2 separate regions of the Homo sapiens genome follow, and region 1 is linked to region 2. Evidence: fine-mapped expression QTL. A gene starts in region 2. The other region holds a variant in brackets. All regions are shown on one strand. Distances are between the middles of the regions.

The links.
Region 1: its variant is fine-mapped to the expression of CACTIN in whole blood (TOPMed, PIP 0.93).

Annotation. Positions count from the first base shown.
Region 1 is chr19:3,581,764-3,584,669 of GRCh38, forward strand. No RefSeq gene overlaps it. Among named protein-coding and RNA genes, the nearest start is that of GIPC3, 2.3 kb to the right of the region's middle. The variant C/T (reference allele first, on the strand shown) is at 1,515.
Region 2 is chr19:3,625,123-3,628,028 of GRCh38, forward strand. It overlaps CACTIN (cactin, spliceosome C complex subunit), which reads right to left and starts at 1,668. Exons shown (of 10, transcript NM_001080543.2): 1 at 1,474-1,668. The coding sequence starts at 1,640. RefSeq lists enhancers at 57-618, 619-1,180, 1,181-1,742, 1,632-2,001.

The DNA of each region.
Region 1 (2,906 bases), 43 kb before region 2:
ATTTTTGTATTTTGAGTAGAGATGGGGCTTCACCATGTTGCCCAGGCTGATCTCAAACTCCTGACCTCAAGTGATCAACCCACCTCAGCCTCCCAAAGTGCTGGAATTACAGGCATGAGCCACCATACCCAGTCAATTTATTGGTATTTGTGAGATGGGGTCTCACTATGTTGCCCAGACTGGTCTTGAACTACCGGGTTCAAGCGATCCATCTGGGCCAGCCTCTCAAAACGCTAGGATTACAGGCATAAGCCACTGCACCCAGCTGTTTCTTTGTGGTTGAGACAGGATCTTGCTCTGTCACCCAGGCTGAAGTGCAGAGATGCCATCACAGCTCACTGCAGCCTATACCTCCTGGGTTCAAGCAATCTTCCCATCTCAGCTTCCCAAGTAGCTGGGACTACAGGTGTGTGCCACCACACCCCGCTAATTTTGTATTTTTTGTAGAGATGGGGTCTCACCTTATTCCTCAGGCTGGTCTCAAACTCCTGGGCTCAAGTGATCCTCCCGCCTCGGCCTCCCAAAGTGCTGGGATCACAGTCAAGAGCCACCTCACCACACCCAGTTTTTGGTGCTTTGTTACAGCCATCATGGGCGAGTCAGACAACCTGATACTGCCAACCCCCCTCACTCCCCACCCCAGTTTCACCCTGTCCTGGCACAGGTACCACCACCTTAAATTTAGAGTTTCTCATTTCTAGGCAGGCCTGGAAAATAGCATTTTGCAGCAGTTTTTTATTAAAAAAAATTTCAGTATACAATTCAGTAGGTTTTGGTACATTCAAAAAGCTGTGTGGGCTGGGCACAGTGGCTCACGCCTGTAATTCCAGCAGTTTGGGAGACCGAGGCAGGCAGATCACTTGAGACCAAGAGTTCCAGACCAGCCTGGCCAACATAGTGAAACCCGGTCTCTACTAAAAATACAAAAATAGCCAGGGATGGTGGTGCATGCCTGTAATTCCAGCTACTTGGGAGACTGAGGCAGGTGAATCCCTCTCTCTCTCTCTTTTTTTTTTTTTGAGGCGGAGTCACGCTCTTGTCTGTCCCAGGCTGGAGTGCAGTGGCGCGATCTTGGCTCACTGCAACCTCCGCCTCCCGGGTTCAAGTGATTCTCCTGTCTCAGCCTTCCAAGTAGCTGGGATTACAGGCACATGACACCATACTCAGCTAATTTAATTTTTGTATTTTTAGTAGAGATGGGGTTTCATCATGTTGGCCAGGATGGTCTTGATCTCTTGACCTTGTGATCTGCCTTCCTTGGCCTCCCCAAGTGCTGGGATTACAGGGGTGAGCCACCAGACCTGGCCTTTTTTTTTTTTTTTTTTTTTTGAGACAGTCTCACTCTGTTGTCCAGGCTGGAGTGCAGTGGCATGATCTTGGCTCACTGCAACCTCCGCCTCCCAGGTTGGAGCAATTCTGCCTCAGCCTCCCGAGTAACTGGGACTACAGGTGTGCGCCACCACACCTGGCTAATTTTTGTGTTTTTAGTAGAGATGGGGTTTCACTGCGTTGTC[C/T]AGGCTGGTCTCGAACTCCTGACCTCAAGCAATCCGCCTGCCTCAGCCTCCCAAAGTGCTGGATTACAGGCATGAGCCACCGTGCCCGGCCTTACATAAAATTTCTTACCTCGTCCAAACCCTCCTGCCACTTTCTTTTCTCTCCCCATGTTCAGTTTGTGAGGCTCCTCCTGGGCGGAGGCTGTGACTGGCTCTGCTGTAGGGCCCGCCACTGCAGGCAGGATGGCTGTTTATTGAGCCGACATTCCTGGGTAGGAATCTGATGGATACGTAGGTGTTTCTGACATTGCACTCCAGCGGATTTTTACCAACGCCTCCTGGTGCCTGGGGTCTCCTCCTTCATCTGTGACCTGGACATCCGTTCATTCCTCACCAAAGATCACTGGGCACCTGCTGTATGCCAGGCACTGTGCCCTGGACACTGGGCATGGGGACAGAGCAGGGGAACAGCCCCCACCCTCCTGGAGCTGACATTCCTCCAGTCCTGGGGACAAACAGGACAAAAGATGAAATGAAATATCAGCAGGGGGCTGGGGCTCAAGCCTGTAATCCCAACATTTTGGGAGGCTGAGGCGGGAGGATTCCTTGAGGTCAGGAGTTCGAGACCATCCTGGCCAACATGGTGAAACCCCCGTCTCTACTAAAAATACAAAAAAAATTAGCTGGGCATGGTGGCAGGTGCCTGTAATCCCAACTAATCAGGAGGCTGAGGCAGAAGAATCGCTTGAACCCGGGAGGCAGAGGTTGCAGTGAGCCGAGATCGTGCCACTGCACTCCAGCCTTGGCAAGAGAGAGAGACTCCGTCTCAAAAAATAAAATAAAATAAAATATCTGATATGTCAGATGGTAGCTTTAAATGCTGAAGAGAAGCTGGGCACAGTGGCTCACATCTGTAATCCTAGCACTTTGGGAGGCCAAGGCTGAAGGATGGCCTGAACCTCCTGGTCTTGAGTTTGAGACCAGCCTGGGCAACACAGTGAGATCCCAACTGTACAAAAAATTAATCATGTTTCTAAATTAAATTTTAAAAAACTGAATGCGGCCGGGTGCGGTGGTTCACGCCTGTAATCCCAGCACTTTGGGAGGCCAAGGCAGGTGGATCACCTGAGGTCAGGGGTTCGAGACAAGCCTGACCAACATGGTGAAACCCTGTCTCTACTAAAAAATACAAAAATTAGCCAGGCATGGTGGTGTGCGCCTATAATCCCAGCTACTAGGGGGGCTGAGGCAGGAGAATCGCTTGAACCCAGGAGGTGGAGGTTGCAGTGAGCCGAGATCACGCCATTGCACTCCAGCCTGGGCGACAGAGCTAGACTCCGTCTCCAAAATCAAACAAACAAACCAAAGGCTGGGCGTGGTGGCTCATGCCTGTAATCCCAGCTTTTTTGGAGG
Region 2 (2,906 bases):
CTCAGGCAAGCCTCCTGTCTCAGCCTCCCAAAGTGTTGGGATTACAGATGTGAGCCACTGCGCTCAGTCACGTTTAGGGGTCTTTGTACACAGAGAACTGCCAAATATTTTGTTAAATGCTCTACCCATTAAGCTCATGTCAAAAAAATCTAAACTATGTTGAAACCAATCATTGCAGAGCCCTTAAATATTGGCCACAAGTTCAACTGAATTTTCGTGAACATTAATTCTAATTACATATCTAGAGTGGCAAATTATTGTGAATAATTCCAATACCAGAAAATGGTAGGCGAAAAAACACAAAGATGACATTAACAAGACTTATGGGCAGGCGCGGTGGCTCACGCCTGTAATCCCAGCACTTTGGGAGGCCGAGGCGGGCAGATCACTTGAGGCCAGGAGTTCAAGACCTGCCTGGCCAATATGGAGAAATCCCAGCTCTACGAAAAAATTCAAAAATTAGCTGGGTGTGGCAACAAGCACCTGTAACCCCAGCTACCGGGGAGGCTGAGGCTGAAGAATCGCTTGAACCCAGGAGGCAGAGGTAACAGCCGAGATCGTGCCACTGCACCCCAGCCTGGGCGACAGAGCAAGACTCCGTCTCAAAAACAAACAAACAAAAAAACCAACAACCGATGAGTGAACTTGGCCCAGAGCGGGGCAAGACTGGCCTGAGTGTCAGCCACGAAGGGGCTGAGCCAGCACTGGGGCCCCGGTCTGGGAATCAGTCCCTGTCCCCATTTTGGTTTCTCTGTACTGGAGCCGGCTCAAGGCAAATCCGACCAAGTGCCCCATCTCCAGAAGAAAAGGACCATGGGGAAGCTGAGATTCAGGCACTAGGAATCAGCTGTGAGTCCTGCCAGCTGACACCGAGTCTTTTTCCCTCCCACAGCCCACCTCCATTAGCAAATGTTGTCTCCTCTACTTCCAGAATCCCTCTGAAATCTACGCACTTTGCCCGCTGTGGTTGACTACAGCCTCCCTCCCATCGAGACTGCCATCATCTACTGTCTGGACAATTGTGCCGTCCTACTCTGATGCCGCTCCTGCCTACCCCGCTCCATCCCTTCTCCACCTCAAAGCCAGAAAGTATGCAGAGTTAAGTCAGTCCACGTCACTCCCCTACCCAAACTCCTCTCAAGACTCTCCATTTCCCTCCGACTAATAGCCAAGATCTAATGTGCTGAGCACACAGGGCTCGATATGATATGATCTGATCTCTCGTTACCTCCCCGCCGCCTCGCTCACCCGGCTCCGGGCTGTCCCTCCAACCGCCCGGTCCCCTGCCTGGAACGCCTCTCGCCTTCCTTCCGCTGCCAGGTTAATTCCAACCGGTGGTCAATTGTCCCCTTCTCTAGGAAGCCCTCCCCGAGTAAGTCGGGGGTTTCCCGGTTCCCCGGGATCTCCAACCCTCGGTCGGGCGCTCCTGAGGTAGGAGCCGGATCCCCAGCGCTGCTCCCGCAGCGACCCCACCTGCGCTCCCGGCTCCGCCGCCTCCGTCTGCGCCGTCCCTCGTCCTCCCGGCGCCGTCGGTTTCGCCGCCCATGGCTCCTGCTCCGACTTCGGCTCCCGCTCTGACTCTGCCGCCTTCGGCCCCGGCGACCCGCGGACCGCGAGCGCGAGCGTGTGTCCCGACCCATCGGCTGGGCCAGTGGCCGCGGCACCAACACCAATAGCCGAAGCCTGCGCTGGGGGCCTTCCTCGCCCACGGCGCTCTCCAGGCTGCCCCGTTTGCGCCTGAGCCGGGAAAGAGCAACCCATCCCGTCGCCCCAGCCCGCAAGGACTCCGACACCCCAGACTTTCCACTACGTCTGCAAATGTGGACCGCGTGATTGACTCCAGTGGGATTGTTGCCTCCAGGGTGGCGGAGTCTCCTTTCAGGCAGTGCTGGAGGCAGCCCTAGGCGGGTCCCCACGCCTCAGGGGGCCTGAGAAACTGTGGGCGGGGCAAGGGCAAACTAGGAACCTTGTGCAGGGAGGGGCCTGCCGAGGCGAGACCAATAAGAAGCGGGTCTAGGTCGGAAGTAGCGCTTCATTGGCGTGGCCAGGGGCGTGGCCGAGGAGAGGCGTGTCCGGGGAGCGAGGTCCCCGAAAGGCGAGGAACCGGGAAGGTGTTAGGTGCCAGGCAGCTCCAGAGGGCAGAGGGCGGGCGCGGGGACAGAAACTGAAAAGCCTTCTTATGAGAGTCATCGTTATGCTCCACCACCTGCCAATGAACACCTATGTATTTTGGGAGTTAAGCTTTAAAAAAAAACAAAAACTTTGATAACTCCCTGTATTCCCCCATCAACCCATTTTAGAGACGGGGAAACTGAGGCTCAGAGAGGGAAAGTCACTCTTAACACTTGCCTTCTCAACCCAGGCTGCCCAGCTTTGTGGTGTGGGTGCTGGGGACCCGTGGGAGGGTTGTGAGCAGGGTTTGGGGGACTTGCTGTTGAAACAAGTTTGGCGTGGGAGGACGGACTTCAGGGGCAAGGCTGGAGGCCAGAGACCTAGAAGACGCTGATGTCCCATCCTGAGCTCCCCTAGCCCATGGTGGCTGCTACCACCACCCCGTGCAGTTCTAACCACTCGGGGCTGGGAAGGCCTGTTTATGGAGGATGATAGTAATTTAAGCTAACTTTTAAAATATTTATCTTGGCCGGGCACGGTGGCTCACGCCTGTAACCCCAGCACTTTGAGAGGCCGAGGCGGGCGGATCACCTGAGGTCGGGAGTTCAAGACCAGCCTGGCCAATATGGTGAAACCCTATCTCTACTAAATAATACAAAAATTAGCCGGGTGTGGTGGCATGCACCTGTGATCCCAGCTACTTGGGAGGTTGAGGCAGGGAGAATTGCTTGAACCTGGGAGGCGGAGGTCGCAGTGAGCCGAGATCGTGCCACTGCGCTATGGCCTCGGCGATA